Linked DNA regions of Homo sapiens: region 1 is linked to region 2. Evidence: fine-mapped expression QTL. A gene starts in region 2. The other region holds a variant in brackets. All regions are shown on one strand. Distances are from middle to middle.

Region 1 (15,951 bases), 71 kb before region 2:
ACTGACCTGGGACTGTGCATGGCTTTCTAAATCCCCCAATATACATGGGTGCTTTTGAATAACCTAATTTCCCTAAGAAATTCTGCTGCTTTCCTCTCAGGCTTTAGGCACTCCTTTGTTTACCTCAACGGTAACTTTTTGCCTCAGGCGGCAGCAGGTTGTTCATTTGCCTTACAATATTTAGAGACAAACATGCCAATTTCACACCATGACTGAGTTCTGAGTTACACGAAACAAATGCAGGTGCCTTTTGTCAGTCCTTGAGGCTGCCAGACAGGTCAGAACAAACATAATCTTTCAAGAATAAAATCTCTGGGGCTGGATGTGGTGGCTCATGCCTATAATCCAAGCACTTTGGGAGGCCGAAAAGGGTGGATCACCTGAGATCAGGAGTTTGAGACCAGCCTGGCCAACATGGTGAAACCCCGTCTCTACTAAAAATACAAAAATTAGCAGGTGTCGTGGTGTGTGCCTGTGGTCCCAGCTACTTGGGAGGCTGAGGCACAAATTGCTTGAACCCGGGAGGTTGCAGTGAGCCGAGATCATGCCAATGCACTCTGGCCTGGGTGGCAGGGTGAGACTGTCTCCAAAAAAAAAAAAAAAAATCTCTCTTCTCCCTAGAAACCCAAGACCAGGACTCCACGCTGAGAATGTGTTCTGTGTCTTCAAGACTGTTGCAGAGCTGAGAATGGGGAAAGGGCAAGTAAAACACTGCCAAGCTTTCCTTCTTTCTAGGTTGCCTTTTTCTTGATTCAGCAAATGCTTGGTGCTGTAAACTATTTTCCTGGGTTCTGACAAAGTTGTTTCTGAATGTTTTTGCTTGATTTTTCAATGTTTCTGTGGAGGAAAAGGTCCTTGAAGCTACCTACTTGGCCATTTTTGCTGATGCTACTCTTGGTTACATTCTGAGGGCCCGACATTGTGTATGAAAATTGGTAGAGCTAATTTATGGTTCTGGATGTTAAAATTATCTGGAGATTTATTTTTGCTTCTGTGAGGCAGTGAAATTAGTTGCATCAGCATTCTCAGATAACTTAAACAGTCATGGAATGAGATGACTTAAAGCTGGACTTCAGGCTGTGTGAGGGCCTACTTCTCACTAACCTTGCACCTAGGATAGCCCCTTGGAGTGCAACTAAAAGCCTGCAAGTTTACTAGGCTCCTTCTTCTTTGGTGGTACCTGCATAGTTTATTTTGGGAATGTGAATGCAGCTTGCCTAACCCTCTAAATATACCCATTGCCAGATAAGAAATTATGGAGCAAGCAGGTTAATGTAGAAACCACATTTATTAACCATGGATTTACTGAGGGCAGTTTATTAGGTATTATCCATCGCTTATGCTGACATCTGATTTTGCAGAGAAATTATAGCCATTATTTTATTAAGATAATTCTACGAGATCAATTTAGTTTCTTGAAGTAGCATATATTCAATTCTTCAATAGGGTTTGGTTTAATTTAGCTATCAAAGTCAGATGTCTCTAAACTTTACACACTAAACTCATCGTGAGCAGAAAATTTATTCTTTGTACATATTCCTTCTGTTTTGGTTCTTCAAGCTGAAACATCTCAACTTCCAGAAATATGGTTGCCAGATCAAAAATACCAGAGTCCTAAGGGTTAAGATTTGAATCGAGAAAAAGATACATGTACACATTGTATTATATACAAACAAGCAACAACAAAAAGTTTCATCATGTAAACAAAAGAATATAAATTATAGACATAATTGGAAGTTTCAAACAGTCCTTAAATCATTGTGAGCTTCTCTAAAAGGCACAGGTCTTGGAGTGTGGGCACAGAGCCATTAGTCAGATGTCTGGGTGGTCTCCCATAATAGCAATGTATACTCTTAAGTGGGCTTTTTGTGAACTCTGTCAGGGTGAATGAGTTAGGCCTCTTAAAGGAATGAAATGCTTTCACATTTGGGGCAACAAGTGAAAAATACTGAAAGGAGGGATACAACTAGGGTTAGATTTATTGTTGACAGTGATTTTAGAAATAACCACTAAAAAGGTGTTAAAAGATTTCTAGATAAAATTCTGACTACTGAAAATAAGAAAGGATACCTTTTGTAGCTCTACAAATGGTTTGGTGAAAAATAAAAAGGGAGAAAGTGAGCCGAGGAGAAAGCGAAATAGGGAAGTCTAGGGAGGATGCAAGAAAATACACAAGTCATAGCAAGAAAAAAAACATGAGATGGTCCTTTCTAAGGACAGATGTTGGTGATATTTACCTATGTAAGCTCAAGCTGAGAAGAGTACAGTTCTTATATATTCATTACTTAATAATATACAAGAAAAATACTTTTCATTTGTTATAAAAGAACTACTTTATATGAAAACTAGAAATACGTATTTACATTGCAAATCCCAAATGAAACCCAATTTAATACAAAGTGAACTATAGGGATGACAGAAAAATGGGTAGATATCAAAATTCAACTGAATTTACAGTACTGCCTTATATCTTTTTTAAATTTTGTTTTTGAGACCGAGTCTTGCTCTGTTGCCCAGGCTGGAGTGTAGTGGTGTACCTTTGGCTCACTGCAACCCCGCTTCCTGGGTTCAAGTGATTCTCGTGCCTCAGCCTCCCCAGTAGCTGGGATTACAGGAGTGTGCCACCACGCCCGGCTAATTTTTAACAGAGACGAGGTTTTGCCACGTTGGCCAGGCTGGTCTCAAACTCCTGGGCTCAAGCAATCCACCCGCCTCAGCCTCCCAAAGTGCTGGGATTACAGGCATGAGCCACCGCGCCCGGCTGATATATATATTCTTTTAAAATCTATACACAAGGCTCAAGTTCTGGGGTTTCAGGTTTTATTTTTAAGTTTTCTTTAAAAATAAAATTGCCAACCCCCAAGTGAATTAAAGGTTGATCTGGGCTCGCAGAGGTAATCTGCTCTTTGTAACCAAGTGCTCTGTAGTTTCTTCCACTTTAGACCTCTCCAGTGTGTTAATGCCTCTGTTTTCTTTGTCTTTTCCATGTGATTTTTTATGCTGTGGATTTAAGGCGGGAAAATTAAGTCAATACAAAGTAACATTAGATACACATTAACTACACTCTATTTTCAAAGTTCTCTGGGTTATAGGCAAAAAAACTTAAGTGTAGAAAACCAAAAAAGGTTCAGCACAAGTTTGAGCCAACAATTTGGCAAGTAGCGCCAAATGCCTTCTTTATTTGATCACTAATGGAAGGAGTAGAGTGAAAGAAATATTAATTTTCTGTGTTATTTTCTAAGACATAGTTATAGATTTTACTCCAGGGTAGTGGTTCTCATCAGGGAGTGATTCTGCTGCCACAGGGGACATTTGGCAATGCTGAGAGACTTTTTTGGTGTTACAATCAGGGAGTGCTACTGGCTTTGAGTGAGTATTCACATAGTACACTGTTTTTCTTGTGTACCAACATAGTACAGTCCACAGGAAAGCCCATCACAACAAAGAATTATCCAGTTTAAAATGCCAATAGCACTGCTGTCAAGAAACCCTGCTCTAAGGAAACAAAGATTTGCTGTCATGCAGAAAAGCCAATTCTGTTTTAAGCAGAGAAACTGGTATATGGGCCACCTTAAAAACACTTTTACTTGTTTTTTAAAATTGTATTTTATTTTATTTGTAAAACCTATTTCATATTCCTCATTTGGAAGTTCTATTTCATTGGAATCCTACTTACCCATACAGAACATTAATGGACTGGTGACATTCATTGTACACTCAGTCATCAATGCTGAGACAAATTGTAAACCAACTTTTAAAGTTTTAAACGCAGAGAAAATCCCCACATCACACTGCTACTAGGGAAAAGATCATTTCTGGACTTCAGCTGAAGGTCTAAAACCCCATCCCAAACCCTTTCTGGTACTGTAGGGACTTCCTTGCCATAGCTGAATCACTAAGCCTAATTCAAAATGCCACAGATAATAATAATAAAACGATTTCTGACCAGGGATTAAGTAGTCACCAGGTTCTCTTATCCTTCCCCCTTTCCTAACTTTATAAGATAGAAGAAAAGGATGAAAACTGAAAGAAACATATTTATAGTTCTCTAATAGTAAGGAATAAAGCAAAAGGTGGCAAGAATTTGGGAATAAAATTGCCCAGAGGAAGACAGGGAGGAATTTATGAGAATCTGAGTTGGAACTTTGTTAACTGTTGAAAGCAGGGATGGAGAATCTTTAGACCTTAAGGGAAGGAGCTGTAGATCTATTAAAAAACAGTTACAGGCCGAGCGCGGTGGCTCACGCTTGTAATCCCAGCACTTTGGGAGGCCGAGGCGGGCGGATCACCTGAGGTCGGGAGTTCAAGATTAGCCTGACCAACATGGAGAAACCCCTTCTCTACTAAAAATACAATATTAGCCAGGTGTGGTGGTGCATGCCTGTAATCCCAGCTACTCGGGAGGATGAGGCAAGAGAATCGCTAGAACCCGGGAGGCGGAGATTGTGGTGAGCCAAGATCAGGCAATTGCACTCTGGCCTGGGCAACAAGAGCAAAACTCCGTCTCAAAAACAAAAAAACAAAACAAGACATACACACAAAAAAGGTACAAGCAGCCAGGCGCAGTGGTTCATGCCTGTAATCCTAGCATTTTGGGAGGCTGAGGTAGGAGGGCTGCTTGAGGCCAAGAGTTCAAGACCAGTCTGGCCAACATAGCAAGACCCTCTCTCTATATATATTTAAAAAAAAAAAAAAAAAAAAAAGGTACAAGCATATGCATCTCAGAAGTAGAACTTCAACTGTAAATGTAGATACCAATGTCCTACGTAAGGAAATTTTTCCTTCACACACTCTGTCTAGGCTTGTACCCTCAAATTAGAGGAAAAGATACCAGCACTTTATAGAGCCTCACTTGGAAGTTGTATTTCATTGGAATCCTCCTACTTACCCATAGAGAACATTAAGGGACTGGTGACATTGATTGTGTACTCAGTCATCAATGCTGAGATGAATCATAAACCAACTATGTTCTCAACAGTGTTAAAAAGTGGGTAGGAGGGGCCGGGCCGGTGGCTCACACCTGTAATCCCAGCACTACGGGAGGCCGAGGCAGGCAGATCACCTGAAGTTGGGAGTTCGAGACCAGCCTGACCAACACAGAGAAACCCCCTCTACTAAAAAAAAAAAAAAAAAAAAAAAAAAAAAAAAAAAAAAAAACAAAATTAGCCAGGCATGGTGGCACATGCCTGTAATCCTGGCTACTCGGGAGGCTGAGGCAGGAGAATCACTTGAACCCAGGAGGTGGAAGTTGCGGTGAGCCAAGATCGTGCCATTGCACTCCAGCCTGGGAAACAAGAGCGAAGCTCCGTCTCAAAAGAAAAAAAAAAGTGGGTAGAGGGCTGGGCACAGTGGCTCACGCCTGTAATCCCAGCACTTTGGGAGGCCGAGGAGGGTAGATAACTTGAGGTCAGGAGTTTGAGACCAGCCTGGCCCACATAGTGAAACCCTGTCTCTACTAAAAATACAAAAAAATTAGCCAGGTGTGGTGGTGCATGCCTGTAATCCTAGCTACCCGGGAGGCTGAGTCAGGAGAATCACTTGAACTCAGGAGGCGGAGGTTAAGTGAGCCAAGATCGTGCCACTCCACTTCAGCCTGGGTGACTCAGTCTCAAAAAAAAAAGAAGAGTGGGTAGGAGAGGTCACAGGATTTAATTACACTGGATTAGAGCAGGCAAGGTGCTCAGGAAACATGGGGCAACAGTTTACAAGAGAAGAGCCTCAGGCAGGAGAAATCACTAATATAACCTAAGAGGCCTCCAGTCTCTCAATCTTTTCAATCACTTTGCCTTCAAAGTCTGATTATGGGCAGAGATAGGTTCCAAGACTTACATGTCAAAGGTAGAAGGAAGAGAAATGACTGCTCTCAGTGTCTGAGTATATAGCAAGCAGAAAAGGAATAAATACAATAGCTAAAGATTATCAGCTAAGGATGTAGATTAAGTCAAATTCTGCCTTCATTTATTCTACAGAAAACCCCTTATCAATATCAGATTTTTGTAAATAATTCAAATCATAAGCGTTAACAAGCCATCCTAAGGAATAATTGAAAGGTTTTTGTTGTTCTGCTCACCACGAACAATACCTTTATAATGAATAGTAAATGAATGACTTACATCAGATGTGGAAGGGTTATCTGATATGACATACCTGGAAAAATGGAACCCCGCCAATTGATGAACAATCCACACCAGCATCTACAGATGGCTCTTGACTTAGAGGTTCTTCAGTATACTGCCCCAGAACTGCCTCTTCTACATCCACATCCTAAAAGAAGAAACTGGATGAGTGACTAAGTCCAAGGGCTTAAAAGTCATCACAAGAGTAACAGCAGCTTTGAGTATAACACAATGCCCATGGTATAATATAAAAGTTAAACCTCAACAAAATTATTAGAAAGTCTACAAATTAATGAAAATAATTCCTAATATATTTTTATAGAGAGTAGAGGTTCCTATATAACAATGTTACTAAGCACAATATTAAGTATTGGCTATTATTATCTACTAGCATAATTTAAAAACTAGTAAGATTAAAAGAAACAAGCCTAAGGGCTAGGCCTATCATTAATGAGAGGCGGGGTAAGATTGAGGGGTAAACAGTAAAATTCTTCACATGAAGTCAGCCACATCAAGAGTTCATAAAAGAGTTCTATTATAAAATATGATCCTTTAAATTTACCGGAATTGTCTCTTCTTTGTTGTTTTCTGAACAGTTTAGCATCATTAACAGCTCAGGCTGTTTCCTTTTCAGCTGATCAAGGAGATGTTCACGTGGTTCAGTTCTTACCAGTGTTGATGGGTATAAATAACTTTTCCTCTGTGGTGTCGTACCTTTAACGGACATTAGATAAGAGGTAAAAATTAAAGTATGAGATGTAAATATTTTTAAAAAAACCTAAAACTTCCTAATTAATCTTGTCTTCTAAAAATATAAAAATATAATTGCCATATATGAGGATCAGTCTTGCTACCTGTCAGACATTGTTTGCAACTAACAATACTTTCTAATTTGATGACAGACTTTACTGTTTTCAAGATTCATCCTACTCTCTAAAACATGAAGTTTACCATCTCTGAGGATATATAAAAGATGTGTTATAAGCTCTAAAAGGAGTTATAGTGTTCTGAAAAAAATGGCAGCATTATTGGAATGAGTAGATTTCCCAACATGATTACTTTGATAGGAGTAATCATTTCACTATAAATGTGGTGTGGTGGTTAAATATTAACTAGTTATATACATATACTATGTTGCCCAGGCTGGTCTTGAACCCCTGGGCTCAAACGATCCTCCTGCCTTGCCTCCCGAAGTGCTGGGATTATAGGTGTGAGCCACCGCATCAGGCCCCCAGTTATATTTCTCTGTAATAAGCTCATGCTCTCATGATTTACAAAAGTACTTGCCTTTTCACTCAACATTTACATTCCTAACTTCATTGAAAAGTAGACAGTAAATCCTACAGGTCTCTTGGGGAATAAATAAACCAACATTCTATGTAGCACCATCCCCTTTTAACAATTGCTTTTTAAATTAAAAAAAAAAAAGAGTTTTGTGATATAATTTA[C/A]ATACCATAAAACACTCATTTTATGTGTACAATTCAGTGGATTTTAGTGAGTTTACAGGGTGTGCAACCATTACCATAATCCAATGAAGAACCCAATTATTCATGCTGTGTAAAACAGCTTGTTACATCTCTTCCATGAAGACCTCCCTGAATCATTACAGCCTATAATGATCTTTGCCATATGTGATCTCTCAAAATGTTGATTCCTAAATGCTAATGGTCCATGGTGATCCCTGATCTCTTAAAACAGGGATTCCTAAATGGCAATAGTCTATGACAAAATGAGAGGGACACAGAACAAAATGCACAATGTGGTAAACTTTGCATTAAACTAGATTTAGTCAGTTACATCTCTCCCATATTTGTGGTATTAAAATGTCCTTTTACAAACAGTGCTAGGTTTGTATTTGTTTTAAAAAATCCCCTATTAACAAAGTCAACTCCCTGAAAGTATGTGAAATTATACTGAATTGTGATACCACCTGTATCATGACACTTGATTAAAACTATTTTAAGGTTCCAGTTTTCCCATTTTGAGTTGATTACAGTGAGATGTTAAATTTCTGTCAGGCAATGGCAGGACCTAATTTTTCTGAACATCTGACACTACATAGAGTTGAATTCGACTTCAAAAAATTTAACAATTCTATTTCTCTTTTAAAGTACCTGTTGGGATATCCAGTTTCAGATCCTGTTCCAGAAAGCAATTAAGCTTAGTCAAACCAATTTTTATGGTTTCATTAAGTTCTAGATTTTGTGCTATCAATTTATCTTCATCAATAGTCATCTGATCAAGAAAAATGTTATGCTGTTTCTCATGAGCTGCCTTACGTCCATCTGATTTCTCAGTGATGTCTGAACTTGAAGCCTCACAACATTGGCTTACAACCTGTAAATGATGCAAATAAATATTTATTACTAAAATTAAAGTTGCCAGTGTTTTATTCAACATCATATTTTCCCTTACCTTTTCCATAATTTTTTTTTTTTTTGGAGACAAGTCTCACTCTGTTGCCCAGGCTGGAGTGCAGTGGCATGAGTAGTGCTCACTACAGCCTTGACCTCCCAGGCTCAAGCCATCCTCCCACCTCAGCCTCCCAGGTAGCTGGGACTACAGGCATGTACCACCATGCCTGGCTAATTTTTGTATTTTTTGAAGAGATGGCATTTCACCATGTTGCCCAAGCTGGTCTCAAACTCCTGGGCTCAAGCAATCTGCCCACCTTGACCTCCAAAGATTACAGGCATGAGCCACCACACCTGGCCTTCAGTAATAAAAGATTTAAAAACACATACAAAAGTAGAGAGAACAGTATAATTAACTCCCTTGTATTCATTACCCAGCTTCAACATTTACCAACAAGTGGAGTACAGACATTTACCAACAGGACTGGCCACTCAACTCCTCCATAAACCCAGGATTATTTTGAAACAAATCCTGTATCATTTCATCCATTTACTTCAGCATGTATCTCTAAGAGGTAAGAGCACTTTAAGACCACTATCACATCTAAAAAGGTTAACACTGATTCCTTCCTATCAAATGTCTAGTCCATGTTCAAACTTCACCAGTCGTCTCAAATGTGTGTCACAATTGCTTTGTTTGAACCAGAATTCACCACTAGATTTGGTTCATAGGTCTTAAGTCGGTGACTATATAATTTATCATCCAAATTGGGACACCTTTTGGAGTGAAAGGGCCCATTCTTAATAATCATTCTAATACAACAATATCAACAAGGACTGTCTCAGGCAAACTAAGACTTAAGGACCTCTAGTCTTAAGTCTCTTTTGATATACAGGTTATTGTTTCTCATATTTTTTCCCTTGAAAAAAAAAACTTGTTGCTGAAGACATGAGGTCTTTACCCCATTGAACATCTCAAATTCTGGATTTGGTCAACTGCATTTCTATGCTTTATTTTCTACAAACTGGTTAGACCTAAAGGCTTGATTTAATTCAGGTTTAATTTTTTAGCAAGAGTATTTCATAGGTAGTACTGCAAGCACAAAATGCTTTGCTGTGTCTCTCATGTTAAGATTTATCAGTGAGTTCAGGTATGGTTAGCCTATTAATTATAAAGTTCCCCAACAGCTTTTGATCAAATGGTTTAAGCCATCATTAACATCCACAGGGGTTATTTTATTAAGAGTTGCATACTGGTGATATATTAATTCTATCATTTCTTCTCCATTTTATTAGCTTAGAGTCTAATGAAACACTTTTCTTCATTACCCTGCTAAACCAAGATATGGTTCTTTTAGGAAAGACAGATGGATGCTAAATTTTTTCTTCTTCTTTACCCATTTTCAGGACAATGTGTTGCTTCCCTAGCATGATCCAAAGGAGACCTATGAAATTTTTATGAGTTCGTAAGTTTTAATATATTTGATATGTTTTAATCCATTATGGCCATTATTCTTTTTGATGCTCAAATTATGCCACCTTTGAAGATGGGGAGGTTGGCTACTAAGACCTTTTGACAACCTCAGAAATCTTTAACAGCTTCCTTACTCTCTGGTATGACAAGATCTCTAGGCTCATATATTATACATTTCCTATCACAAATCTGAAATTAGCTATTTGTATACAAACTCTAGTTCCTTTTAGTGAAAACAGCTTATATAGATTAAAAATTTTAATTCTTTGTACCTACTTCCTGAGAATGTTAGTAAAATCCTATTAATGCAAAGAAAGAAAAAACCAAGTTACAAAGGGCTCATGCAAGCGTTAAGTTCAAGCAAATCCATAAACCTATCAAGTATCCTTTAGTTACCAGAACAATAACCTAAATACTTAAAATAATAATAGGTTTGAATGTACTTGGAGAAAAGTAAAAAGCAAAGATAGGCCGGGCGCAGTGGCTCATGCCTGTAATCCCAGCACTTTGGGAGGCCGAGGCGGGTGGATCATGAGGTCAGGAGTTTGACACCAGCCTGGCCAATATAGTGAAACCCCATCTCTACTAAAAATACAAAAAAATTAGCCGGGTGTGGTGGCAGGTGCCTATAATCCCAACTACTCGAGAGGCTGAGGCAGGAGAATCGCTTGAACTTGGGAGGCGGAGGTTGCAGTGAGCTGAGATCGTGCCATTGCACTCCAGCCTGGGCAACAGAGTGAGACTCCATCTCAAAAAAAAAAAAAAAAAAAGCATATATAAGTGGAAGGTATTACATATCAAAAGACAGGGTGCCCTTCTTTGAAGAAACTACTAAGTCAGAAACCAAGGATAAATACAGGAAAGAAACTGTACAAATGTTAAATTAATTCCAAGATTGAGAAGACATATAACAAAGCACAAAACGAGATCATCTGTAAGCATACCAAATATTATACTTAAAAGTTTAAGTCATTATAGCTTAAAATATCATTTGTTTTGAAATCTATTCTTAGCCAAGAATATTTAACTTTCTGATTATTATTCTCCCCAAAGTAAGTTCCACTTACAAAGTTATTACCTCCAATAAGTTGTGAAGTTCCTGTTCCCTTTCATTTAAGGAAGATACCCACTGTTCAGAAAAATAAACTGTTCTTGTGTTCAGAGATTCACATCTCTGTTCAGTCTCTTGAGATATTTTTTCCAGGTTGCCATTGAGTTTATCAGAGTGTTTCACAGATTCTTCAACCAATTTTGTACCTTCTTGGTTAAAATTTCTGAGTTCCTGTGAGAAGCCATCAGAATCAGCACAAAATTTTTGACTGTGAAAAGTCATTTTGTTGACTATATCCTTAGATTTCCTATAGGAAAAGAGAATGACACTGTTGAAATGGGGAATTAAGACTCAAAGGATATATAACTTCCCAAGATCACTCAGCTCTTAAGTGGCAGATCTGAACGTGGACAGTCTGGCTCCAGGGCCCGTGATCTTAGTAAATCTTCTGCATTGAGAATGGATGCCTTGGCCACTGTCTTTTCACAGCATTGCCATTAAATGACCTTTGAAAGGATCATCTTTGCTCATGAAACCTTTCACAACCCTCCTCCAGTTATGATGCTTTCAAAATCTGTCTACTTGTTTTATTCCTCTTACTAGGCAATGTTACTTCAGGGCATCTACTACAGCCTCTTGTCTAGTCCCTAAATTGGACAATCAGTCATTTATTCTGTTATTAAGCAGTTTCCCTTGCCTAGTATGTAAAACAAATCATGAACATTACAAATGTTATGTTTAAATTAGCTATAAAGCTTTCTAATAATTAAAATTATATTGGGGTGTGACAAATTATACATATAGAACAATGTAACATAAACTTGATATAATATTAATGTTGGTTAGACATACATTTAAAATTCATTGATAATTTCCATCTCGGTAAGTTGCCCTATAATAGCATTCCAAGTTATCTTACAAGATTTAAACCTTGTGGAATGAAGTGACTCTCTATTACCACTAGATGGTACACCACGTGGGTAAACCAAGTGAGTCAGCAAAGATGTTAAAAACCAAACCTACACGTGAAAGTCACAATGACTGAAAAAAGGGCAAGGCATAGTGGCTCACACCTCTAATCCCAGCACTTTGGGAGGCCGAGGCAGGTGGATCACCTGAGGTCAGGAGTTAGAGACCAGTCCGGCCAATATGGTGAAGCCCTGTCTCTATTAAAAATACAATAAATTAGCCGGGCGTGGTGGTGGGTGCCTGTAATCTCAGCTACTTGGGAGAGAGTGAGGCAGGAGAATTGGTTGACCCTAGGAGGCAGAGGTTGCAGTGAGCTGAGATTGTGTCATTGTACTCCAGCCTGGGCGACAGAGCAAGACTCTGTCTCAAATAAAAAAAACAAAACAAAATCTCACAACTTAATGGGAAGACGAGATTGAGTTAAAAGTACTATAAGCCATGACAATAAATGCCAAACGCAGTTATGTGCAGTGTGTACATAAACATCACCTAGATTCCTGGGTGATGAATACAAAGTCCCTAGACCATACTGGGAAACTCTGGTGTAGACAATAAATGTCAGGAAAGCAGGAAAAATGATTTGCATGGGCCTTAAGAAAGTATATCATACTTCCCTTCCTACTTCAATCCTACTCTAGTATTTCCTCCACGGCTATGGAATGGCCTAGAAATCCATCAGTCTAGATACTAGGAATAAAAAGTAGGACATACTTTTTTGATTCAGCATATAGGAAGAGTTCACAATGGAACATGCTATACTTAACAGGATCAAAAACAGGGTTGAAAAACAAATGACAGAAGTTAGGTAGGGATATATAAATGATAGCTAGAGTTCCAGAACAGCACTGTTCAACAGAAGTATAATAGAAGCCACATATGCAATTAAAAATTTCTGAGGCGGGCAATCACAAGGTCAGGAGTTTGAGACTAGCCTGGCCAATATGGTGAAACCCCCGTCTCTACTAAAAATACAAAAATTAGCCGGGCATGGTGGTAGGTGCCTGTAATCCCAGCTACTTGGGAGGCTGAGGCAGGAGAATTGCTTGAACCTGGGAGGCAGAGGTTGCAGTGAGCCAAGATTGCACCACTGCACTCCAGCCTGGGTGACAGACCAAGACTCCCTCTCAAAAAAAAAAAAAAAAAAATCTAGTAGATACATTAAAAAAGAAAATAGATAAAGCAATTCAAGTAACAATGTATTAGGTGTTTATTGCACATATAAACACCTAAGTAAAACATATGAAAATAATGACAAACGGGAAAGAGGAAACAGGAATATACTATTATAATGTCCTTTCACTACACATGAAACAGCAAATTATTTGATAATGGATTCAAATTATCTTAAAATGTATACAAATTCAAATTATCTTAAAATGTATACTTTAAATCCTAGACATACTACTAAAAAGGGAATATTTAAAAAGTATAAATAAGTCAATGGAAGAGATAAAAACATAAAAAGTGCTCAATTTAAATGAGGAAAGGCAGCTGGGTGCAGTGCCTCACACCTATAATCCCAGCACTTTGGGAGGCCAGGGCAGGTAAATCACTTGAGGTCAGGAGTTCGAAACCAGCCTGGCCAACATGGTGAAACCCCATCTCTAGTAAAAATTTAAAAATTAGCTGGGCATGGTGGTGTGTGCCTGTAGCCCCAGCTACTCAGGAGGCTGAGGCAGGAGAATCACTTGAACCCGGGAGGCAGAGGTTGCAGTGAGCCAAGATTGCACCACTGTACTCCGGCCTGGGCCACAGAGCAAGACTCTGTCTCAAATAAATAAATAAAAATAAAACATCATAGATTATAAATTTGATGAAAAAGCAAGACCCAACTACATGCTGTCTATAAGAAACCCACTTTAAATATAAAGACTTAGACCAAAAGTAAAGAGATGGAGAAGGATACATCATACAAATAGCAATCAAAGGAAAGCTAGAAAACCTGTATTCATTTCAGACAAAACAGACTTCAGAACAAGAGCTTATCAGAAATAAAAGTGGATATTACATAATGATAAAGAGGTCAATTCTCCAAGGAGATATAATAATCCTAAATGTATATGCACCCAACAACAGAGTTTCAGATACACGAGGCAAAAACTGATAGAACTAATAAAAAAAATAGATAAATCTACAATTAGAGATTTCAATACTCCTCTCTAAGTCACTGATAGAACAAATAGGCAGAAACTCAGTAAGGCCGTGGATGACCTGAATAGCACTATCAATCAACTTGATCAAAGTGACACATACAGAACACTTCATGCAACAAAAGCAGAATACAAATTTTTCTCATGTGGGTAGCACACAAACAAAGCATTATCAGAATAACACTGCAAGGGCTCTAAAAACTAAATTGTCAGTGGAACCACAGCCCATAAAAGTGAGCCTGGATCTGTATGCTAAGCCTAAACAGGGTGAATGCCAGCTAAAAAATACTTAAATAGGATCCTGAATCTCCTAACATAATACCCAAAATCTTCAAGGTACAATAGGAAATCACTTATCATATATCAAGAACCACAAAAATCACAAGTTGAATGAGAAAAGACAATCAATAGATGGCAACAACAAGAAAACTCAGATGTTGGAATTGTCTGGCAAGGATTTTAAAGCAGCCATCAAAAAATGCTCCAAAAAGAAATTAAAATACTCCTGGAAAAGAAAAAAATCCTAGCTAAGAAACAAGGTATAAAAAAAGCAAATGAAAATTATAAAACTAAAAATAAAAAAGCAATAACTGAAAAAACACCTCATTGAATGGGTTTAACAGTAGGTTAGAGATGACAGAAGGAGACTCAGTGAATATGAAGACAGATCAATAGAATTTCCCCAATGTGAACAACAAAGAGAATATATGTATCTATAAGAAATATATTCTACATATCTCCTGAGGGACCAAAATAAAAGATCTAACATTTGTGTCATCAAAGTCATAGGGGCAGATGAAAAAGAGTATAGGGCTGAAAAATATTCAAAGAATTAATAGATGAAAATTTCCCAAGTTTTGGTGAAAGGCATAAGCCTACAGATTCAAGAAGCTAAACAAAACCCAAATAGAATAAACTCAACGAAATATAAGTAGACAAAATATAATCAAGTTTCTAAAGACAAAAAAGTTTTGAAAGCAGCTATAGGGAGACTGCCTATAAGGGAACAATTACTTGAATGGCAGTGGATTTCTCATTTCATAGAGGCCAGAAGAAAATGGAAATATTTCAAATGCTGGAAAAAAATAATTGTCAACCCTGAATTCCACAGCCAGTGAAAATACCTTTCAGGAATGAAGGGGAAATCAAGACATTCTTAGACAAAGAAAAACAATTTCTGTCCAGCAGACCCACCCTTAAAGACTACTTCCCACCAAAGAAAGCTTGAAACTTTAGGAAGTTTAATTTCAGAATTAAATGGGGAAAAATAGGGTAAATATAGTATCTTTCTCCTCATGAGTATAGAATACTCAATAGGCAAAAAACTGAAACTTGACAAATCTCCTATGTTTTATAAAAATTTTTAAATGGATCATGAATATAAATGTTAAACCATAAAGTTATAAAATTCCTAAAAGAAAACATAGGTCTGACTGTAGTGTATGTTAAGTATGCGGAACTGGCAAGCAATGAGGCTACAAAGCAACATTAAACTCTAATACAGGCTGGGAGCAGTGACTCACACCTGCAATCCCAGCACTTTGGGAGGCCGAGGTAGGAGGATCAGTTGAGACCAGGAGTTCAAGATCAGCCTGGCCAACGTGGCGAAACCCCATCTCTACTAAAAATACAAAAAATTAGCCAGGCATGGTGGTATGTGCCTGTAATCCCAGCTACTCGGGAGGCTGAGGCAGGAGAATCACTTGAACTCAGGAGGCAGAGGTTGCAGTGAGCCAAGATCACACCACTGCACTCGCGCCACTGTACTTCAGCCTGGGCTACAGAGCAGGCTGTTTGTTTTTGTCTGAAAAAACAAAACAGAGCCGGGCGTGGTGGC
Region 2 (14,956 bases):
AGAGTGAGATGCTGTCTCAAAAAAAAACAAAAAACAAAAAAAAGAAATCTTGCAATGATGTGCCTTGGTGTGCATCTACTTTCTTTCTTTCTTTTTTTTTTTTTTGACACGGAGTCTCACACTGTCGCCCAGGCTGGGTGCAGTGGCGCAATCTTGGCTCACTGAAAGCTCCGCCTCCTGGGTTCACGCTATTCTCCTGCCTCAGCCTCCGGAGTAGCTGAGACTACAGGCGCCCGCCACCACGCCCGGCTAATTTTTTGTGTTTTTAGTAAAGACGGGGTTTCACCATGTTAACCAGGATGGTCTCGATCTCCTGACCTCATGGTCCGCCCGCCTTGGCCTCCCAAAGTGCTGGGATTACAGGTGTGAGCCACCATGCCCAGCCAATGTGTGCATCTACTTTCATTAATTGGGCTGAGCCACAGTCTGGCAAGTTGTTACCTTCAGTCTGGGAAATGTTTTTGAATTATTCATTGACTATTTCACTTGCCACGTCTGTTGTTTCTTTCTGGAACTCCTGTATAGAGATAGCAGATTTCTACCACCCAGCAATTACTACCATTAATATTTTGATGTATTTCTTTCCAGTTGTCTATTTGTATATTTTCAGTAATTGAGATCATAATTGAATATATAGGGTTTTTTTGGTCTTTCCCCCCCTTTTTATGGAGAACAGAGTCTCACTATGTTGCCCAGGCAGGTCTTGAACTCCTGGACTCAAACTATCGTGGACTCAAACTATCATTCTGCCTCTACCTCCTTAAGTGCTGGGATTACAGGGGTAAGCCACTATGCTCAACCTGGATATAGAATTTTGCATCCTGAATTTTTATTTAACGTAAGAATTCTTCCAAGACTCTCCAGACCTCATCTCTACAAAAAATGAAAATAGTCTCAGCCATGGTGGCACTCACCTGTGGTCCCAACTACTCGGGAGGCTGAGCTGGGAGGATCACTTGAGCCTGGGAGGTGAGGCTGCAGTGAGTCATTATCATACCAGTGCACTCCAGCCTGGGTGACAGAGCAAGATCTTATCTTGAAAAAAAAAATGGGGGCCAGGAGCGGTGGCTCGGGCCTGTAATCCCAGCACTTTGGGAGGCCGAGGCAGGTGGATCACGAGGTCAGGAGATCGAGACCATCCTGGCTAACACGGTGAAACCCCATCTCTACTAAAAGTACAAAAAAAATTAGCTGGGTGTGGTGGCGGGCGCCTGTAGTCCCAGCTACTTGGGAGGCTGAGGCAGGAGAATGGCATGAACCCGGGAGGCGGAGCTTGTAGTGAGCTGAGATTGCACCACTACACTCCAGCCTGGGTGACAGAGCAAGACTCCGTCTCAAAAAAAACAAAAAACAAAAACACCTTTAGCTGGTTTTAATTACTCAACAAATGTTTACTGAGCTTAGGTGCATACCCTGTGATAGTCACAAAAATGAATTTAAAAAGTCCTGCCCTGCCAGGCATGGTGGCTCACAGTTGTAATCCCAGCACTTTGGGAGGCCGAGGCTGGCAGATCGCCTGAGGTCGGGAGTTCAAGACCAGCCTGACCAACATGGAGAAACTCTGTCTCTACTAAAAATACAAAATTAACTGGGCATGGTGGCACATGCCTGTAATCTCAGTTACTTGGAAGGCTGAGGCGGGAGAACTGCTTGAATCTGGGAGGCAGAAGTTGCCGTGAGCCGAGATCATGGCATTGCACTCCAGCCTGGGCAACAAGAGCAAAACTCAGTCTCAGAAAAAACAAAAACAAAACAAACAAACAAAAAAACAGGCAGACAGGGTCTCACTCTGTCACCCAGGCTGGGGTGTAGTGGCATGATCTCGGCTCACTGCAGCCTTTGCCTCCCGGATTCAAGGGAGTCTTCTGCCTCAGTGTCCCAAGTAGCTAGGACTACAGGTGTGCACCACCAAACCCGGCTGCTTTTTGTATTTTTAGTTTTTTTTTTTTTTTTTTTTGAGACAGAGTTTTGCTCTTGTTGCCCAGGCTGGAGTGCAAGGGTGCAATCTCAGCTCACTGCAACCTCCACCTCCCAGGTTTAAGTGATTCTCCTGCCTCAGCCTTCCGAGTAGCTAGGATTACAGGCCTGCACCACCACACCCGGCTAATTTTGTATTTTTAGTAGAGACGGGGGTTTCTCCATGTTGGTCAGGCTGGTCTCGAACTCCTGATCTCAGGTGATCCGCCTGTCTCAGCTTCCCAAAGTGCTGGGATTACAGGTGTGAGCCACCGCGCCCAGCCGCTACTTTTTGTATTTTTAGTAGAGACGGGATTTTGCATTGTTGGCCAGTCTGGTCTCCAACTCCTGGCCTCAAGTGATCCAGCTGCCTCAGCCTCCCAAAGTGCTGGGATTACAGGTGTGAGCCACCACGCCTGGCCTTAACCTTTCATATTCATAATAAACAATAGATTAGGAGTGATGTCTTAGTCATTTTTGTATCCCACCTAGCAGCAAGCACAGTGCTTAGTAAACACTTCTCAAATGCATATTTGCTGAATCTGATCAAATCGGTGGATGTAACTACCATTTACAGGAAATATAAGAAACAAACATGTTAAGTCACATTGTAAGAATACAGTCAGCAGGCTGGGCACGCTGGCTCACGCCTGGAATCCCAGCACTTTGGGAGACTGAGGCGGGTGGATCGCTTGAGGTCAGGAGTTCAAGACCAGCCTGGGCAACGTGGTGAAACCCCGTCTCTACTAAAAAATACAAAAAAATTAGCCGAGCTTGGTGGTGCACGCCTGTAATCCCATCTACTCAGGAGGCTGAGGCAGGAGAATCACTTGAACCCAGGAGGCGGAGGTTATAGTGAGCCGAGGTCACTCCATTGCACTCCTCTTGTTGCTCCTGGGCAGCAAGAGCGAAACTCCATCTCAAAAAAATAAAAATAAAAAGAATACAGTCAGCAAAATTTAGAATGTTGGGAACACTATAGGATAAATGACTCAACTCCTTTGACAAATAAATTGCAAAATAAAAAAGAGGAGGGAGAGGCCAGGTGCAGTGGCTCACGCCTGTAATCCTAGCACTTTGGCAGGCCAAGGCAGATGGATCACCTGTCAGGAGTTTAAGACCAGCTTGACCAACATGGCGAAACCCCATCTCTACTAAAAAAATACAAAAATTGGCCAGGCGTGGTGGGTCATGCCTGTAATCCCAGCACTTTGGGAGGCCGAGCCGGATGGATTGTGTGGTCAGGAGATTGAGACCAGCCTGACCAATATGGTGAAACCCCATCTCTACTAAAAATACAAAAATTAGCCAGGCATAGTGGCATGCACTTGTAATCCCAGCTACTCAGGAGGCTGAGGCAGGAGAATCTCTTGAACACGGGAGGCAGAGGTTGCAGTGAGCCGACATTCTGCCACTGCACTCTAGCCTGGGTGACAGAGCAGGACTCCGTCTCAAACAAACAAACAAAATAAATAAATAAATAAATAAATAAATAAATAAAAGATTTAGAATTGACAAGCTATGGGCCAGGCACGGTGGCTCACGCCTATAATCCCAGCACTTTGGGAGGCCAAGGCAGGTGGATCACCTGAGGTCAGGAGATTGAGACCATCCTGGCTAACACAGTGAAAACCCCGTCTCTACTAAAAATACAAAAAATTAGCTGGGCATTGTGGCGCATGCCTGTAATCCCAGCTACTTGGGAGGTTGAGACAGAATTGCTTAAACCAGGGAATCGGAGGTTGCAGTGAGCCAAGATTGCACCACTGCACTCCAGCCTGCTGACAGAGTGAGACTTCATCTCAAAAAAAAAAGTAAACAAACAGGCCGGCGCGGTGGCTCATGTCTGTAATCCCAGAACTTTGGGAGGCTGAGGCAGGAGGATCATCTGAGGTCAGGAGTTCAAGACCAGCCTGACCAACATTGTGAAACCCGGTCTCTACTAAAAAAAAAAAAAAAAATTAGCAGGGCATGGTGGTGGGCCCCTGTAATCCAAGCTACTTGGGAGGCTGAGGCAGGAGAATCACTTAAACCTGAAAGGCAGAGGTTGCAGTGAGTTGAAATCACGCCACTGCACTCCAGCCTGGGCAACAGAGTGAGACTGTCTCAAAAAAAAAAAAAAAAAAAAAAAGAAAAGAAAGAAAAGAAAAGAAAGTGAACAAACAAAAATTATTCTAAAAAATATGGATAAATCTCACCAGATAGTTAAACAAAGCCAGACCCAAAAGAGTATATACTGTATGAGTGCATTTATATTAAACTGTAATCCAGGCAAAACTAATTTATTGTGTTAGAAGTCAGGTTAGTGTTTACCCTTGGGGTGACAGTGACTGAAACGGAGAATAAGGCAGAGCTTCTGGGTGTGTTTACAGGGATGTGTTCAGTTTTTGAAAATTCACTGAGCTGTACACTTATCACTTGTTTACTTTTCTGTTTGCAATACTTCAATAAACTCTTCAAAAAAGATCATCTTCAAAAGATACAAAACAAAATAAAAAAAGGAAACATATTAATTAAATGAAGTGTTTTGTTCTTGTTTGGATCCTGATTTGAACAAACCCATTGTGAAAAAGAAACATTTGAGGCAATCAGGAAAGTGGGAACACTCAGGAAAGTGGGAACACTGACTACATATTTGATTATATTAAATAATTATCTTAATGTTTTAAGTATGTTAGTGCCTGTGGATTTTCTTTAAGTCCTTTGAGACATATACTGAAATACTGAGATGAAATATTAATAATATGATGCCCGGTATTTGGTTCAGAATAATTTAGTGGAGGTTGAGGGAGTTGGAGGAAAAGATAGAACAATATTGGCCATGAACTGGTAATTATGGAAGCTGAATAATGAATGGATGCCTGGGGTATTTATTTATGGACATTGTTTGGCTGTGGAATTCTAAAATCGTATTTTTCAAAATGTTTTTATCCTAAATCACAAAATCTATGTTGACATTATTGGGCTATAGAATTCTAAAATCATATTTTGCCTGGAATAGTTATACTATTTTCTTTTATTTTGTTTATGTTTGACTACTTGTTCCATAATACAAAGTTTTCTCTTTTTTCTTTTTTTTTTTCTTTTTGAGACAGAGTTTCGCTCTTGTTGCTCAGGCTGGAGTGCAATGGCGCAATCTCAGCTCACTGCACTCTCCACCTCCCAGGTTTAAGCAATTCTCCTGCCTCAGCCTCCTGAGTAGCTGGGATTACAGGCATGCACCACCACACCTGGCTAATTTTGTGTTAATAGAGACGGGGCTTCTCCATGTTGGTCAGGCTGGTCTCCAACTCTCGACCTCAGGTGATCCACCTACCTCGGCCTCCCAAAGTGCTGGGATTACAGGCGTGAGCCACCATGCCCAGCTTTTTTTCTTTTTTTCTTTTTTTTAATGAGACAGAGTTTTGCTCTTGTTGCCCAGGCTGGAGTGCAATGGCATGATCTTGGCTCACTGCAACCTCTGCCTCCTGGGTTCAAGCAATTCTCCTGCCTCAGCCTCCTGGGTAGCTGGGACTACAAACGCCTGCCACTGTACCCGGCTAATTTTTTGTATTTTTAGTAGAGTCAGGGTTTCATCACATTGGCCAGGCTGGTCTCGAACTCCTGACCTTAGGTGAGCCATCCGCCTCAGCCTCCCCAAGTGCTGGGATTACAGGCGTGAGCCACCGTGCCCCTCCCAATAAAAAGTTTTAAAATGTATATTAGTTTTAAGTACAATACTATGGTAATAAAATACCTAAAAGCAACATGAATTTTTAAAAATGTTTTATAGATAAGTGATTAATTATAAATTTGTTTGTTAGGAGTTTTCCTAAATGACTCATCTTTGCTAGTCCTTAAAGGTAAATTTGAGTTACTTTATGGGCAGGATCTATAATTCGTATTTTCCACACACAGTTAAGACAACTCTTGATTTATGCATTCAACAAATATTATGGGCCCAGGGCTTGCTTTCAATGTTGAGGATACACCAGAGAAAAGAGCAACCAGGTTTCTATGCTTGTGGTATTTACATGTTAGTGAGAGAGATAAATGAGAAAATTAAGACACATAAAATAAGGCTGGGTGCGGTGGTTTTCATGCCTGTAATCCCAGCACTTTGGGAGGCCGAGGTGGGCAGATCACCTGAGGTCAGGGGTTCGAGACCAGCTTGGCCAACATGGTGAAACCCAGTCTCAACTAAAAATACAAAAAAATCAGCAGGGCGTGGTGGCTCATGCCTGTAGTCCTAGCTACTTGGGAGGCTGAGGCAGGAGAATCGCTTGAACCCGGGAGGCAGAGGTTGCAGTGAGCTGAGATCACTCCACTGCACTCCAGCCTGGGCCACAGAGGGAGACCCCGTTTTAAAAAGATAAAAAAGGCCGGGTGCAGTGGCTCATGCCTGTAACCCCAGCACTTCGGGAGGCTGCGGTGGGTGGATCACCTGAAGTCAGGAGTTTGAGACCAGCCTGGCCAACATGGTGAAACCCTGTCTCTACTAAAAATACAAAAATTAGCTGAGCGTGGTGGCAGGTGCCTATAATCCTAGCTACTCAGGAGGCTGAGGCAGGAGAATCGCTTGAACCTGGGAGGTAGAGGTTGCAGTGAGCCAAGACCACACCATTGCACTCCAGCCTGGGTGACAGAGTGAGACTCTGTCTCAATTAAAAAAAAAATGTCTTTTGAGACATTTTTCTTTTGAGAAAAAGAAAATTGATGGCTAAAACCAATGTTCCTCAGCTGTTCATTAAAGAATTGGCATTGCTCAAGAGCCTTAAAAAATAATACAAATAAAAATGATGTTTATGAAAAATGTTTAAGGTCTTGTAAGAATTGTTGTTTGAGACAGGGTCTGGCAGTCTTGCCCAGGCTGGAGTGCAGTGGCATGATTTTGGCTCACTGCAACTTCCACCTCCTGGGCTCAAGCCATCCTCACACCTCAACATCCAGAGTAGTTGGGACCGCAGGCATGCACCACCATGCCCGGCTAATTTTTTGTTTTGTTTTGATTTTATCTTTATTTTAAATAGAGATGAGGTCTATGTTGCCCAGGCTGGTCTCGAACTCCTAAGCTCAAGTGATCCTCCTGCTTTGGCCTCCCAAAGTGCTAGCATTACAGGCATGAGCTACTGCACCTGCTGCCTAATTTAGTTTTTATTTTTTTATATAGACAAGGCCTGACTATGTAGCCAAAGCTGGTCTTGAACTCCTGAGCTCAAGCACCCTCTCACCTCTGCCTCCCAAATTGTTGGGATTACAGGCATAAGCCACCGCGTCTGGCCCTAACTTTAAATTTTCCTTTGTTATTAACTACCTAGGTATGCTTTCTCTTTAGCTATTTGTACAAAATTTTGAGTTGGTGGATTCAGAATTCAGATTTTGATTTTGAATATATAACAATAGGCTAGATTAGTTCAAAAGACATTTTTTTTTTTTGAGATGGAGTTTCACTCGTTGTCCAGGCTGGAGTGCAATGGCTTCATCTCGGCTCACCGCAACCTCCGCCTCCCGGGTTCAAGCAATTCTCCCGCCTCAGCCTTCCGAGTGCTGGGATTACAGGCATGCGCCACCATGTCCAGTTAATTTTGTATTTTTAGTAGAGACGGGTTTTCTCCCTGTTGGTCAGGCTGGTCTCGAACTCCCAACCTCAGGTGATCCGCCCACTTTGGCCTCCCAAAGTGCTGGGATTACAGGCGTGAGTCACTGTGCCCAGTCTCAAAAGACATTTTAAGTTTTATTTTCGAGACAGGGTCTCACTCTGTAACCTAGGCCGGAGTGCAGTGGCACGATCTCAGCTCACTGCAACCTCTGCCTCCCAGGTTCAAGCGATTCTTGTGCCTCAGCCTCCCAAGTAGCTGGGACACAGGTGCACACCATCATGCCCAGCTAATTTTTTAATTTTTCTGTAGAGACAGGGTTTCACCATGTTAGCCAGGCTGGTCTCAAACTCCTCACCTCAAGTGATTCACCTGCCTCATCCTCCCAAAGAGCTGGGATTACAGGTGTGAGCCACTGCACCCGGCCTATTTAAAAAAAAAAAAAAAAAAAATTCTTGCCCGGGCGCGGTGGCTCACGCCTGTAATCCCAGCACTTTGGGAGGCCAAGACAGGCGGGTCACCTGAGGTTGGGAGTTGGAGACCAGCCTGATCAACATGGAGAAACCCGTCTCTACTAAAAACACAAAAATTAGCTGGGTGTGGTGGCGCATGCCTGTAATCCCAGCTACTTGGGAGGCTGAGGCAGGAGATTTGCTTGAACCTGGGAGGCGGAGGTTGCGCTGAGCCAAGATCATGCCATTGCACTCCAGCCTGGGTGACAAGAGCAAAACTTCGCCTCAAAAAAAAAAAAAAAATTCCTTTTCTTTCCTCTGCTAAAACATCTGGGGGGACAAAAGATATTATTTTTCTGAACATTACCAATTAGGAAATAAACGCCAATCTGTCACCACTGGGCTTCCTTTTTAAGTTTTTTTCTTTCAATCATTAGGAACTCCTGACTCAGCTCTATGGTGAACTCTATTCTATCTGGGCTAATGGAAGGAACTTACAGCACAGATAAACACTAATATTTGGCTTCCAGTATATCAGAATACTTATATTTGAATATGTGTCTAGTTTTCCTATCTAAGGCAAAGAATGACTTCAGCACATTACTTTTTCTGCTTCTAAAAAAGTTGTAGGCCGGGCATGGAGGCTCACGCCTATAATCCCAGCGCTTTGGGAAGCTGAGGTAGGGGGGATCATGAGGTCAAGAGATCGAGACCATCCTGGCCAGCATGGTGAAATCCCGTCTCTACTAAAAATACAAAAATTAGCTGGGCATGGTGGCGTGCGCCAGTAGTCCCAGCTACTCTGGAGGCTGAGGCAGGAGAATCACATGAATCCGGGAGGTGGAGGTTGCAGTGAGCCGAGATCGCGCCACTGCACTCCAGCCTGGTGACAGAGCGAGACTCCATCAAAAAAAAAAAAAGAAAGAAAAGAAAAAAAAGTTGTCTAGGTGGTTTACACCTTATACTTGTTTGAGTGAGAGTGGGAAAGATTACACCCTAGACCTTCACATTTCCTACTTTTTCTCATCATTCTGGGGTCTGCCTGAATGTCACTTCCTCAAAGAGGCCTTTCCTGACCACCTGTTCCTTCATATCACTTACTCACTTGATTATTATCTGTTTTTCCCACACAGCTAGAAGGTAATCTCCATCAAGACAGAAACTTTTGTCTTTTTTGTCCACTGCTGTATTCCCAGCACCTTTATAATACCTGGTATCTGTAAGGCATTCAACAAATATTTGTCAAGTCATAAATGAGATGAGCAAATCACAGGTTTTGGAATAAGACAGTCCTGGGTTCAAATTACAACTCCACTCTTTTTGTCCAATTGTTGGCAAGTTACTCAACCTCTCTCTGCCACAGCTTCCTCATCTCTGGTAGGTGAGGAAATATCCATTACAGAGGGTGGTCATGATGACTAATGAAGGAGCCATGTACAATGCCAGACACAGAGTAGACTCTCAAAATTGTTACTTTTCTTTCCATCCACCTCCTCTTTATTGAGATGATAGTTATGAGACTATATTAATATTAATCTTTCTTATCCAGGACATCTACTCCAACCAGAGGGAAATTTATCATGAAGCTAATGAAGTTTAAACTTCAGGGCTGCTCACTTGCACAGGCTCCAAACTGGGAGTTGTAGAGGGAAAGCCAGTTGTTGTCTGGAAGCATTTTTTTTTTTTTTGAGACATAGAGTCTCATTTTGTTGCCCAGGCTGGAGTGCAGTGGCGTGATCTTGGCTCACTGCAACCTCCGCCTCCAGGGTTCAAGTGATTCTCCTGCCTCAGCCTCCTCAGTAGCTGGGATTACAGACGCATGCCACCACGCCTGGCTAATTTTTGTATTTTTAGTAGACACGGGGTTTCACCATTTTGGTCAGGCTGGTCTCGAACTCCTGATCTCGTTATCCGCCCGGCTTGGCCTCCCAAAGTGCTGGGATTACAGGCATGAGCCACCACGCCCGGCCATCTGGAAGCATTTTTATGTAAGCATTTCTAATAAGTAGCCTAAAGAGATCTCAGGAAAAAAAAGGGTACTAATCTCCAAGTCTCGAGTATTTGTTGTGATGTATTTTCTCTCTATAGTAATCTTCTGATTGCTAATTTTGTATTTATAATTTGTATTTTATGTCTCAAAGAGGTCCCCCAAATTGTATATGTTTCAAGCCCTCCAAGTCTGAATCTACCCCAGCCCATTTATAGATTCCATTAATGGAGCATAAATGTATTCAGAAAGGCTGCATTAACACTCTCAGAGGAGCTGCTTCAAGGTGATTGACTACTCTGCATTGGGACTGGTAATTTAAAGGTTCTTAAAACCATGCACTTGCAAACACCACTAGGAGGCTTGCCATAATTTTTACCTGTTTTCATCCAAAGGTTTGCCTTTAGGTGAAACCGCACTGTTAAAAAGATCGTGGGTACGTCTTCGATAAAGCATCAACTTGATTAAGGAACCCTCCTACTGAATTCCCATTTAAAGCAATACTTGGACTAAGGACACCGTTTTTGGCTGCAGTCTTGATCGTCTGTCAATCAGAAACCTAAAAGTACTTAAGCTGGCAAGTCACCATCCCTAATAGCATTCTTCCTTAAAGACTCCCATAAGGTATTATGGAAAGTTAGATTCATAACAACTATTAAGTTGTTCGTGGGTGCAAAGCCCCATAAAGCCACTGGGGAGAAAATTCTTTGTTTAAAAAGTAACCACTGAAGCCGACTGACATTAGTAGTATTCCTAGTACGGAGTACTAACAAGAGTAGTAGTTTCTACTCTGGATTTGAAGCCTTGTTTTGCTGCGGCGCCCGTCCCATCCGCACCTTCCTCTTAAGAGAGCTGCTAACTTCCCCAAGGATGGAAACGTCCCCCTGGGTCCTGGCCTCTCTATCGCTGACCCCTGCGTCTGAATTTCCCCCACGCCGCACTCGAGCCTTGTCTCCAGCGCATCTGTGCCTTCGCGGTCCACGTCCCCACCGCGCTCTAGAGGGAGCCCGCGGGCCGCGCGCCGGCCGCGGATTCATTTTACGTGAGGCCGCCGCGACCACGAACCTTGTTCCAACACCTGCAGGGTCCGGCACGCTAGTCAGTGGGGGTGCCTCAGAAAACATAGCCCCGTGTGCCCTCACTGGATTTATGAGCGGCCCCTCGCCCCCTCACAGTCAGACACACGTCGCCACCCTCACAAGTGCGGCCGGTGGGATCTAGCTGGGACCCTCCCCGCCTGGGAAAGTCTGGGTGCTGGCTCCTAAAGCGCCCCGGCCAAACCCCTGTCCCTCCAGTCCGCCTGCTCAGGCCTCGGCTGTCCGCGGTCTTCACCGTCCTCGCCTGCGTCCTGGCCCCATCCGGCTCCAGGCAAAACCCGGAGCAGCTACCTCTCCGCAGCTCCCGGGAGACCGCGCGGCGCCGCGGCTAGAGCATGCGCAGTGCGCAGGGCCGGCTCGAAGCGCAAGCAGGAAGCGTTTGCGGTGATCCCGGCGACTGCGCTGGCTAATGCGGTACCGGCTAGCGTGGCTTCTGCACCCCGCACTGCCCAGCACCTTCCGCTCAGTCCTCGGCGCCCGCCTGCCGCCTCCGGAGCGCCTGTGTGGGTAAGCGGAATGGAGCGCCCGGGCCCTCGGGCCCCGTGGGTCACAGCGGTTTGGCGCTCGGGTTGCAAAGTGGTGATTCAGCACTTAAAGCCGCCACCGCTGCCCCTCACGCCGCCCGTCCCGCCGGCCTGGGGCCCGTACTGCCGCGCTGAGGCCGCCCCAGGGCCCGGAAGAGCGGCTCGCCAGGCGGGAGCCAGAGGCCTGGTCCAGAGTCGGGGACGTCCCTTGGGCTGGTGAGGGGCCGGGGCCGCTACCCGGGGCCACGGGGCGTGTGCCACTAGTGCGGGGGGCGCAGGGGCGGACAGAGTCACCCGGCCTGCACCTGGGAGCCGCGCCGCGTCACTCTCCCGGAGTCCGCCTGTGAGGGGGCCGGGAACCTGAGGCGGACTCGAGCCGTGGGGTAAAGGAATCCGGCGACTTCGGGGGGACCGCTTCTCACCTTGCCCTCAGCCCTGCCCTTTTCTCCGGGCACTGAGTTTCCAGGACCGTGTGGAATGCCCGCGCTGGGAAAAAAGTTTGCCTGCCTCCCGCCTTGGAAGACGAGTGTGGGGTTTCCTATCGGGGGACATTTAGGAGCCAAAAGATACCTCGGGATCCTCTACAGCAGCTCCCTTGTTTTACGTCGGAGACAACCGGAGCTCCGAGAGATGGCTTGATTTCCCAGCAACTGCCGAGATTGTGGCAAAACCAGGATTAGGACACAGGTTTTTTGCCATCCGGCGGCGTGCCCTCTCCACTGCACCGTTGATCTGCGTACGCTAGGCGTTTTCAGGCTTGTAGTGAACGCTGAATACTTTTTACTACGAATGGAAGAAGATAGGCAGTATTATCTTGCCCTCCCTAGAAACGTTATTTGAACCCCTGCTGGTTTTAATCAGTAATAGCCAGCACCTACTAAGTGCAGGGCACTGTGCTGGACCCTCTATGTAAAGTATGTGTCTGCCTTCCAAGGAACTTTGACTTGATTGGAGCGGATTGGGATGCCACGGGAATTGAGATAGCTACAAGGGTGTGTTGATGAGGGTCAGAAGATGGGTAGTATGGGTAGTGTGTGGGGCCAGAGATGGGGGGGTAGGCTGGCTTTGGAAGGAATGGCAGAAAGGTTGGAGTGAGGGCTGGCGTGGGCGTAATCCAGCCTAGATATGCGGGCAGTTTGTGTTGGGGGAGCAGTGAGCCGATTAGTCTGGTTGAAGCTTTATAGAATTTCCTTGGGGTAATTAGAAGGACACAAGTCCTGTATTATAACAGTAGGGTAATGCTGGCCTGGGTCTTGAATTTTAGTTGGGATTTTCCCAATGCGTAGTAGGTAGGGAGCCATTAAAGTTTTTGAGCTGGAAAGTTATCTGATGGAACTGGGGGTTTAGGAAAGTAGTTTGGTGGCTGTGTGCAGGATGTCAGGAAGTGGAGAGAGTCCTAAGGCAGAGAAACCTGTTGGGACTTAGTCTTTACTGCCTGTATTAGGATGGTAGCAGTGGGGCACTAAGATAAGCTAATACAAATGAAGACTCTATGGAACTTGTTCTCCTCTGTTTTCCACTACATCACAAAATCTCCTATAATGTGCAAAAGACCCCTGAACTTAGAGAATCAGGTGGTAAGCACAGGCAGGATGCCTCCTTTTGTCCTCTTTTGTGTCAGTCTGCTTTTGTTCTAAATTCATTACTGATAGGCTAGGCTTAGCTGTCTCCATACTGTCTCCAGCATATAGCATTTGTGATTTTTAAAGAAAGCACCAATTTTAAGTTTTGTATAACTAAGTGGTTTGTATGTTCTAGTTAAAATTACATTTTCTCTGTAGTTATAAAGTCCGGTCGACCATCCAGAGTTTTAAGATATGTTTTTCTCAAAGATGGAAATTTGAGAGATTCAAAGCATAATGAATGAGATGAGCCAGCTAGAAAGCTCTACCCTAAAATCAGTGAGTGAGGCTTTTGAGGAAAATACAGGTCCAACCAAAGGGATTAGGGCATAGTTTTAGGAAGGAAAGCACTAACATCTGAAGCTACCACATATTCTCATCTTAAGGAATGCAATCAGCCCTACTGTACATAGTCGGAAGAATGTCTTAACAGAGATAGCCACACAGCTATTTGCTGGAAGAGCTGGGATTTAACCCATGTCTATCTGGCATCGGAGCCTGAGCTCTTAACTGTTATGTATTTGCAAACACAAGTACTGCCTCTGCTGGTATTTGGGCATTCATTTTCTGGTCTAACCTCTTGAGACAGAGATGGTCTTAAAGCATTTATGTAAGATCAATCCATTTACAGAGTAACCTCCTTGTTCTGTGTTCAGCTGTATTTTATAACTTGGGACTGTGTGGAATTATCTGAACTACTGGGGCACCTGGAGATAATAGCCCATTCCCTGGCAACAACTTGAGCCACCTGGGCATCAGTCATCTCACTTTGCAGGCAGCCCTACTTTGCATTTCCCTGTTCCATAGGCTTAGGAAACAGTGGTATGTCAGTTGGGACTATCAACATTCAAGCTTTTAAACTACTGTCAATCAGAAAAATGCCTTTTAATAGTGTAAAAGAACAGGGTACCCCTGAAGTTTCTTTAACCTAATCCACACATTCTGCCTGTCTTGAAAGTTAGGGTTGAGGCCAGGTGGGGTGGCTCATGCCTGTAATCCCAACACTTTGACAGGGCGAGGTCGGGGGGATCACTTGAGGTCAGGAGTTCAAGACCAGCCTGGGCAACATGGTGAAACCCCATCTCTACTAAAAATACAAAAAAATTAGCCGGGCGTGGTGGTGGGCGCTTGTAATCCCAGCTACTCATGAGGCTGAGGCAGGAGAATCGCTTGAACCCGGGAGGCTGAGGCAGGAGAATCGCTTGAACCCAGGAGGCGGAGGTGCAGTGAGCTGAGATCGTGCCACTGCACTCCAGCCTGGGTGACTGAGCGAGACTGTGTCTTAAAAAAAAAGAAGTTAGGGTTGGGGACAGTCTCCCCAGGGTAGGGGAGAAAAAGTTCAGTATGTTTTCTTTTTTTTAAAGTTCGAGACAGGGTTTCACTCTGTCGCCCAGGCTGGAGTGCAGTGATGTGATCTCAGCTCACTGCAGCCTTCATCTCTTGGGTTCAAGTGATCCTCCCACCTCAGCCTCCTGAGTAGCTGGGACTGCAGGCTCATGCCACCACCCCACAACTAATTTTTGTATTTTTGGTAGAGATGGGGTTTTGTCATGTTGCCCAGGGTGGTCTCAAACTCCTGGGCTGAAGCAATCCCCCTGCCTCCCAAAGTGCTGGGGTTACAGGCATGAGCCACTGTGCCAGGCCCAGTATATGTTTCATAAACACTGGTTTCCTTTCTGTTTTTCTGTTGGTATTTTATATCTCCTAAACATGTAGCCAGAGGATCAGGCTACCTTTTAGCC

Which allele goes with the higher level. Alleles are on the strand shown, and positions count from the first base shown. SD is a standard deviation of normalised expression in the study named.
In carriers of allele C in region 1, the expression in transverse colon of the gene that starts at base 11,404 in region 2 tends to be higher than with A alone (small effect, 0.37 SD a copy in GTEx).

What was found. PIP is the estimated chance that this variant, and not a neighbour inherited with it, causes the effect.
Region 1: its variant is fine-mapped to the expression of IDE in transverse colon (GTEx, PIP 0.99).

Annotation. Positions count from the first base shown.
Region 1 is chr10:92,640,714-92,656,664 of GRCh38, reverse strand. KIF11 (kinesin family member 11) reads right to left here. Exons shown (of 22, transcript NM_004523.4): 18 at 11,023-11,302; 19 at 8,231-8,453; 20 at 6,679-6,830; 21 at 6,148-6,264; 22 at 1,270-3,000. The coding sequence ends at 2,869. Among named protein-coding and RNA genes, the nearest start is that of HHEX, 41 kb to the left of the region's middle. The variant C/A (reference allele first, on the strand shown) is at 7,565.
Region 2 is chr10:92,570,541-92,585,496 of GRCh38, reverse strand. It overlaps IDE (insulin degrading enzyme), which reads left to right and starts at 11,404. Exons shown (of 25, transcript NM_004969.4): 1 at 11,404-11,575. The coding sequence starts at 11,478. RefSeq lists enhancers at 10,745-10,984, 10,995-11,054 and a silencer at 11,555-12,004.